2 separate regions of the Homo sapiens genome follow, and region 1 is linked to region 2. The links come from fine-mapping of genetic effects on gene expression. A gene starts in region 2. The other region holds a variant in brackets. All regions are shown on one strand. Distances are from middle to middle. Region 1 has its middle 10 kb from the start of XYLT2. Region 2 holds the start of LRRC59 (leucine rich repeat containing 59).

Evidence for each region. PIP is the estimated chance that this variant, and not a neighbour inherited with it, causes the effect. A credible set is the group of variants that fine-mapping cannot tell apart.
Region 1: its variant is the best candidate, but not a certain one, in a credible set for the expression of LRRC59 in whole blood (TOPMed, PIP 0.86).

What each region holds. Positions count from the first base shown.
Region 1 is chr17:50,333,837-50,338,356 of GRCh38, forward strand. No RefSeq gene overlaps it. Among named protein-coding and RNA genes, the nearest start is that of XYLT2, 10 kb to the right of the region's middle. The variant G/A (reference allele first, on the strand shown) is at 2,366.
Region 2 is chr17:50,395,532-50,399,531 of GRCh38, forward strand. LRRC59 (leucine rich repeat containing 59) reads right to left here and starts at 1,992. Exons shown (of 7, transcript NM_018509.4): 1 at 1,682-1,992. The coding sequence starts at 1,786. LRRC59-AS1 (LRRC59 antisense RNA 1) reads left to right here. Exons shown (of 2, transcript NR_199069.1): 2 at 1,685-3,026. RefSeq lists a silencer at 1,969-2,038.

The DNA of each region.
Region 1 (4,520 bases), 61 kb before region 2:
GGAAGTGTAGCAAGGAGACAGAAACCACAATAGCTCTGGTGGGAAACCATGATGGAGGCTGTAAATAGCAGACAAGACACGGAGAAAATAAAATTAACATGACGAAGGGCAAAATGATAAAAAGACGAAAAGAAAGAGGCAGGCGGTCAGACACGGGGGATATAACCTGGGAATAATCGGAATTCTGGAGAGAACAAAACAGACATAGGGAAAGCAGTATTCAAAGAAATGGGAGGGGAAAAGTTTCCTGCTGTAAAGAAAGAACTCAACTGGAAACTGAGAGCATGTTCTGACTTCCCAGCAAAGTTAATGAAAAGAGGGCCCCGCTTAGACACACTATGATGGAATTCTCAAAGTTAAAAAAGTTAAGAAAATTGCCGGAACATACACACAGACACACAGACACACCCTTGAAATAGGAAACTGAAAGGGAAGAGAGATTTTACTTTACTTCTTTTTCTTTTTCTTTTTCTTTTTTTTTTTTTTGAGACAGGGTCTTGCTCTGTTGCCCAGGCTGGTGTGCAAAGTTGCGATCTCGGCTCACTGCAACCTCTGCCTCCCAGGTTAAAGTGATTCTCATGCCTCCCCAGTAGCTGGGATTACAGTCATGTGCCACAACACACAGCTAACTTTTGTATTTTTTTGTAGAGAAAGGAGTTTGCCATGTTGCCCAGGCTGGCCTTGGACTCTTGGCTCAAGTGACCTGCCCGTAAAGTGCTGGGATTACAGGCATGAGCCACCATGGTTGGCCAGAGATTTTACTTTTCTATCTTTAGTTCTCTTGGATTTTTTTTTTTTTTTTTTTTTTGAGACGGAGTCTCGCTCTCTTGCCCAGGCTGGAGTGCACTGGCATGATCTCGGCTCACTGCAACCTCCGCCTCCCAGGTTCAAGCGATTCTCCTGCCTCAGCCTCCTGAGTAGCTGGGATTACAGGCATGCGCCACCATGCCCCGCTAATTTTTGTATTTTTAGTAGAGACAGGATTTCACCATGTTGGCCAGGATGGTCTTGATCTCTTGACCTTGTGATCCACCCGCCTCAGCCTCCCAAAGTGCTGGGATTACAGGTATGAGCCACCGCGCCTGGTCATATTTTTTTTAAAAAGTTTTTAAAACAAATTTAAATGCAGGAAGGGGCAGTGATAAATAAGGATCTTACAAACAAATGGGAAAAAATAACAGAGAGCTTAAATTAAAATGATCTCAGACTTCCCTTGAGCCCAAGAGTTCGAGGCTGCTGTGAGCTATCCCTCCTGAATAGTCTTCTTGAATAAATCACTGTCTTCTCAAGACTACAGCATGCAAAAGAAGAAAATGTCAATTTCTTTTTATCTCAAGTCATCATTAGAAATACATTGTACTTTTAGACCAGGCGTGCTGGGATTACAGGCGTGAGCCACTGTGTGGAGCTTTGTTTTTCTTGTTTTTCTGAGACAGGGTCTTGCTCTGTCACCCAGGCTGGAGTGCAGTGGCATGATCATAGCTCACAGCAGCCTCAAACCCTTGGGCTCAAGTGATTCTCCCACCTTAGCCTCCCAAGTAGCTGGGACTACAGGTGCACATCACCATGCTCGACTAACTTATTTTTTTTTATTTTTCATTGAGACAGGGTCTTACTCTGTCGTTCAGGCTGGAATGCAGTGACACAACCATGGCTCACTGCAGCCTCCACCTCCCAGACTCAAGCAATCCTCCCTGCTCAGCCTCCTGAGTAGCTGGGACTACAGGCATGCACCACCACACCTGGCCAATTTTTTTTTTTTTTTTTTTTTTTTTTAGTAGAGACAACCAGGCTGGTCTCAAAATCCTAAGCTCAAGCAATCCGTCTGCCTTGGCCTCCCAAAGTGCTAGGATTATAGGTGTAAGTCACCATGTCCCACCCCCATTCTATGTTTTTTAAAATGTAGCCATAATCCTTTAAATTGAGTGGGTTGTGACCTGTAGTTTGAACTACACTGATCTAGAAAAACCTAAAGGATAGGCCATGTTGTCATTCATGTATGAAGGCAACAAAAAGACCTCAGGTGTGGAAGTTATTTTTAAAAGAATCCCTCCTGAATACTCTTCTTTAATAAATCACTTGAAGATGTATGCCAGGACAGTAGAGAAAAAATCAGATGTAAATACTCAAGAATGAGAAAAATATCTAGCTTGAAGCACCTGCTTAGAGGTTTAGGGGAAGGAGAGTTTTCATGTCTTCTCAAGACTACAGATTGCTAGCACCTTTTTGCAATGTTCTGGCAATATCTTTTAAAAGAGAAATGTACATACCCATCTCACTCTTGGAAATCTATCATACAAAAATAAAGACACCAGTATATCAGGTGATATGAACTAAGATGCTTCTTGAAGCCATATGTGTAGGG[G/A]CAAAATAACTAGCAATGACCTCAATGCCCAATAACAGGTGAATGGCTTAATAAATTATGGTGTATCTATACTAAAGTAATAAACATTATGTAGCTATTATGTATTAACCTGGAGGGGTATCCATGATAAAATGATGATTTATTTAAAAACACAGTGTTGGGTAATTTCTGTATCATCTTACTTCTGTAAAACATGGAGTGGAAACCTACCAAAGGGTTGACATCTGCATATATTTATATGAGCAGAGAGAAGAATGTGGAAGCAACAAAGCAAACGGGCCAGGCTGGTTAATTCTAAGTAGAGAGCAGAGGGGAAAGAAAGGGAGATCATTGGCTGTTCTGAAACAGTTTTTAATTAATTCGTTGCCTTATTTTTGAAATTTTTGAACTATTTCTTTTGAGACAGGGCCTTGCTCTGTCACCCAGGCTGGAGTGCAGTGGTGTGATCATGGTTCACTGCAGCCTCACTCCCCTGAGCTCAAGCAATCCTCCCACCTCAGCCTCCTGAGTAGCTGGGACTACCGACGGTAGTCCCACATCTGGCTAATTTTGGTATTTTTAATACAGATGGGGTTTTGCCATGTTGCTCAGGCTGGTCTCAAACTCCTGGGCTCAAGCTATCTGCCTGCCTCAGGAAGTAATTTTTTAAATTATCTACTTGGCAAAGGGCATTGAACAAGTTAATATATATGCATTACTCTAAATATTTTTAAATAGTCTCAAAACTGAAGATTAAAAAAAAGAGAGATTATTCCCTTAAAAGAAATTAGCTACATTATAAACCAAAATGACAAAGTTCATAACCCCAGATGAACTTTTAACAAGTGAGAATGATCCTTGTTCACATAGTAGAGAGAGAAAAGAAGTGGGGATGAATAGGGAGAAACTAATTTTCTACAATGGGAAATAAAAATTATAGTTCTATGAGGACTGTGATCATTGAATATCTGTGAAGGCTAAAGCAACTCCATATTGGAGGCTAAGCCGCCATGATGACTTCTGATTAGCCCCAATTCTGGGAATTCCTCTAAGCTTTCCAGTCTATCTATTGTTACCTGTGTAAGAACAGGTACTTACCTCCCTTAGGTCAAAACAACTTTGATGTTATCATACTTCAATTGTCCTTCACCTGCCTTCTGGATCACATATACCCCTTCCCTGTGGTAGATAAGCCCTGGGTCTTAGGGGGTAACATCTTGTCTCCCTGCCAGCCACTGCACAAGACACAGACCTGGCTTCTGTTTCTAATTTCCTATTGTTTATTTCTAAGAAACTGAATTTGTCAGCCTTTTTCTTCAGTCTCTCAGTTTCCTTGGACTTTGGCGACAGGTTTGCACAGGCCTACCCACTGAGGAACAATGTCACATTAAAATTATCTGAAAAGTTGTAAGTAAACACAAGTAGAATTTTAAAAAGAATTCTAGAGCTAGCACAGTGGTGCACACCTGTAGTCCCAGCTACTTGGGTGGCTGAAGAGGGAGGATCACCTGAGTCCAGGAATTCAAGGCCAGCCTGGGCAATATAGTAAGATGCTCCTTGTCTAAAAAAAGAAAAAAAAATTTTTTTAAAGAATTCTAATTCTTGCTTTCTAAATTATTAAGGAAGATTATAGCAGACGAACAGTCTATATAGCCCTGAAAGGAAAATTAACAGCAAAATGCGTTTAAGGCCTAAAACTCAGGCGCAGTATTAAATGCTGATACTGACTTTATATGCGGTGAAATTGGGAGGCTTTGACTGGCCTAGCCACAAGTTCACCTCCTCACTCTGCTCCCTTGGATAAGGTCCCCCAGCCAAATAACCCCCCTTATCAAGGGGACCAGGAGCACTTCCTGCTTATTCCTGAGTAGTGGGTTTCAGTTTCCTGCCAGCCTGCAGCCTGCATAATTATCCACATAAGCCAGTCACATCTTCCTGCTGAAACTAGGGGACATCTCATCCTCTTGATACTACAAAGCCTGCCTCCCACAGCCCTTAGTTGCTCACTGTCTCTGAGCGCAACCCCTGTGTGGCCCTGCATGGTGTGTGATATCCTGCCCTGGGCTATGAGTATATGTGACTAATACACTACTGTCAATCTCATCTGCCCAGAATCAAATGTCGTGTGTTTGGCCATCTCTGTAAACCTAGGATGGGAATCCCTCCCTCACCAATG
Region 2 (4,000 bases):
GCCCTTCCTCAGAACAGGTACTCAATATCCATACATGTTGCCTGAATCATGACTGATCGAGTAAGTAGCGGAGTGAATGACAGAGTGAAAAAACAAGGCCCTGCCGGGTGCGGTGGCTCACGCCTGTAATCCCACCACTTTGGGAGGCTGAGGCAGGCAATCACCTGAAGTCAGGAGTTCGAGACCAGCCTGACCAACACGGAGAAACCCTGTCTCTACTAAAAATAGAAAATTAGCCAGGCATGGTGGCACACGCTTGTAATCCCAGCTACTCGGGAGGCTGAGGCAGGAGAATCGCTTGAACCCGGGAGGCAGAGGTTTCAGTGAGCCGAGATCACTCCTGGGCAACAACAGCAAAACTCCATCATCCAAAAAAAAAAAAGGCCCTCACAGCCCATCTCTATTTTCCCATGGTGTCCAGGCTGGACAAGCTCAGCAAAACTTTCTCCCTAAGGTTAATGCTGGACTGTTCAGATGCCTGGAGTATATGGTTTCAGAGAGCAGTCCTAGGGCAGGGTGAAATAAGGCTGGCCATCTATCTTCCTGGGGTAGAAAAGGAGGCATATATTCAGTTAAGGATCCTCTGGCAACCTGCACTTTCTGTCACAAAGTCGTAAAAGTGAAGTTTGACCACCTAAAAAAGTTTTAAATACTACAGCGGGAAAAACACAACAACAGCTACAAGTATCAGTATTTGCTCCTTCCAAGCATTTTCCATTACAATGGTATTTAACCTCCCAATAAGCGTATGAGATGGAAACTATTATCACCATTGTATAGATGAGGAGATCTAGGCATAAAGGCTAACTAGCTTGCCAAGGGCACTCGGCTATTAAGCAATGGAGCTGGGAGGAGCTAGGAACCCGGTTCTAACCACTGTAATACCCGTCCACGGTGGAAGAAAGACTGGGCCCAGCGCCCAAGGCAAATGTAATTTATCAACGGCAGAAAGCAAAGTGTGGGTCACCCAAAGTGAGTCTAGTAGGGCGTTGGCGCGGGTGGGAGGGGGAACGGAGTGGGAAAAGGAGGGATGTGGGAACTAGCTCCACGCTGACAAAACTAGATGCCTGCTATCTCTCTGGAGCTGTAAGCTTCAGTTTACAGGGGAAAGGTTGGGGGAGAGAGGGGCGAAAGGGACTCCCGCCAGTTTCAGCGGAATTCAGATGACAGTTTACCAGCCAAGCTGGGGGGAGACTTTACTTTCTTCGAGTTAGGCTGCCTCAGGGCTCGGGCAGCCAGCTGGAATTGCCAGCTTCCTAGAAGAGCCAGGTTCTGGGCCACACCCAGGTCTACCAGGAGGCCTACTCCCCTGGAACAAGTCACTCATTCATTCTCGAATACATCCAGTAACTGCTCCGTGTGCTCCTACTCAGAGTCGGGCACGGAGGTGGGCGCTGTGAAAGCCCCGCAAAGGTGACAGATTCGCTTCTTAGCCTGTAAAAAGCCTAGGGCCAGAGAAGCAGATCTTCCCTATGTTCTGGAACTGCGCCAAAGTGACACGTGTACATCCCGGGAAGAACCTTGGGCTGGACGCGGCCTCCTAGGGGACTTAGTCCCACCACCCCGCTTCTTTTTAAAGAAAAGGAAACTGATGCTTTTAGAGAAGAGGAAAGTAAGTGGCCCACGTAGGGGCCAGCGCCCGGCGAAGGTGGGCGCCTGGGCCTCGCGGGACGATACTGACCAGCTCCTTCACCGGGACCTCATTCAGGTCGCTGAGGCTCAGGTCCAGTTCGTTGCCGTCCAGCTTGTCGCGGAGGTTCCCGCCCTTGCTACCGGCCTTGGTCATGGTAACGCCGGCTGAGCGGGCCCCGGCTCCGGGGTTCCGGCGGGTGAAAGGAGCTGAAATGTCGCTTGTCAGTTCAGCGGCCCCCCACCCAAACGACGACGCCTGAGCCCTCCGTCGCCGCCGATGCGAGACCGCCTCCGCCCGCTGGCCGCACTCCGAGCCTCGCGCCTAGCTCCCACCGGTGCCGCGACGACGACCACTTCCGTGTCCACGTCACCTTCCGCGACCACTGAGATGGGCTGGGCCAGAGCGGCCCGAGCGTGTGCGGGCACGCCCCCTGGTGCCCAGGGTGATGCACTGCACGTCGCCGCCGCCGGAGGGGTGGGGTTGGAGGCTGCGAGCTCGGTTCACGTTCACCCGTGGCCCGCGGGCATTATTGCTGGCAGTGCCACGAGGCGAAAGGGCACGGACTGGGCGCCAGAAGACTGGGTTGACATCCAATACTGACCTCATCAGATCACCCCAATCCCCCTGATTAGGAGCAGAAGCTGGGTGTCCTCTAAAACTGCTCCCTGTCCTCTACTTAACCCCCGAATAACCATCATGGGGAAAACTCTTCTTCCTGAATTTCTCCTCTCTCCTCCCCACTCACTGCCTCAGTGCTTGTCTCTGTCCTTCCATCCACTTTCACCCAGCTCCCCGGTGATCTTTCTAAAAATCTGGCCAAGTCTCTCCCCTACGTAAAACCCTTCAAACTTGCAGCTACCTCTAGGATACGGACCACTTTCCTTTGGAAGCTGGGTCCTGCCTGCTTTCGCAGCTTCCTCACACGCTCCAGTCCCTGCCTGGCCTAGATGCTGTGTAGATTTCCAGGAGGTGGCTCCCACGTCTGGCCCTCCCCAGCGATGGCCCTCCCTCCCCCCCACTCACCTCTGTCTAGCTAATTCCTTAGTCCTTCAGGAAATCTCCCCTGAACACCGTGAATGCCAGACTGAGTTAGCGCCCCCCCCAACCAACTTAGGTCCCTGTTTGCTACTTTATCATCAGAGACAGTAGAGCTTGATGGCCAAGTGGGACCTCTGGCACTAATACCTATCCACTGGGTATTCATCCTGGCTCTGCCACTTGCTACTTATAAAACCGTAGACAATCACCAGGCTTCAGTCTTATCTATGAATCAATCTATGAGACATGTAGCTAACAGAGGTTGGGGAGAACTGAAGGAGTAAAACACACCAAGAGCTTACAGCAGTCACTGGCACTTAGTAAGTACCCAATAAATATTAGCTACAATTCATGATCCACCTTGTATTATACTCATCTTTATGTGTCTGTCCTTCATTCTGGACTGTGAGGACAGGGATTTTTGTCTTAATCATCTTCGTATGCCCAGAGTTGGCATACCCTGATGCAGGGTAGCTACTCATTCAGATGTCTGTTGAATAAATGAATAGATGGATGGATGAATGAATGAATGAATGAAGGAAGGAAGCACTTTACCCACTCCAAACCTCAGTTTACTCATTTTGAAATAGGGATATTAAAGCTTATCTCAGAGGGGCCGAGCAGGATAGCTCACACCTGTAATCCCAATACTTGGGAGGCCAAGATGAGAGGATTATTTGAGGCTAGGAGTTCAAAACCAGTCTGGGCAACATAGCAAGACCCCATCTCTAAAAAAATAAAAAATAAAAAATCTTGTCTCAGAGGGAAACTATGAACACCAAATAAAGTAAGTGCAATTGTTACGGGGGGTGGGTGGCAGGGGTCCTTGTTCTTAGAACTCCCAAGATGGTGGCGGGCCACTTCCAAGATGGCGGCAAGCCTCTTGTTCTCTGACCTGGGTTTCTTGGCCTCACGCATTCCAAGGAATGGAATCTTGGGCCATGCAATGAGTGTTATAGCTCTATTCAGCTCAATTAGGACAAATCCAGGCACTTAGCCACGCAGGAACAATGGCAAGCCTTTAGCCTGATCCAGAGCAGCAATGGGCGCCTCACTGGATCGGGAGCCCAGCAGACACCCTGCCAGATCCAGAGGGGTGGAAGTCAGCAGCGGGTCTGCGACAGCAGCAAACAGCAGTAGTGGACGGTAAGGAAAAGCTCAGCTCAAGCCGTAACAAACACGGACCAGAAAAGTGTGCAGTTGCAAGATTTAATAGAGTGAAAACAGAGCTCCCATAAAATGGCAGGGGACCCAAAGGGGGTTGCTGTTGCCGGCTCGAATGCCTGGGTTTATATCCCGATCATTGTCCCTCCTCCTGTGCTCTCAGGC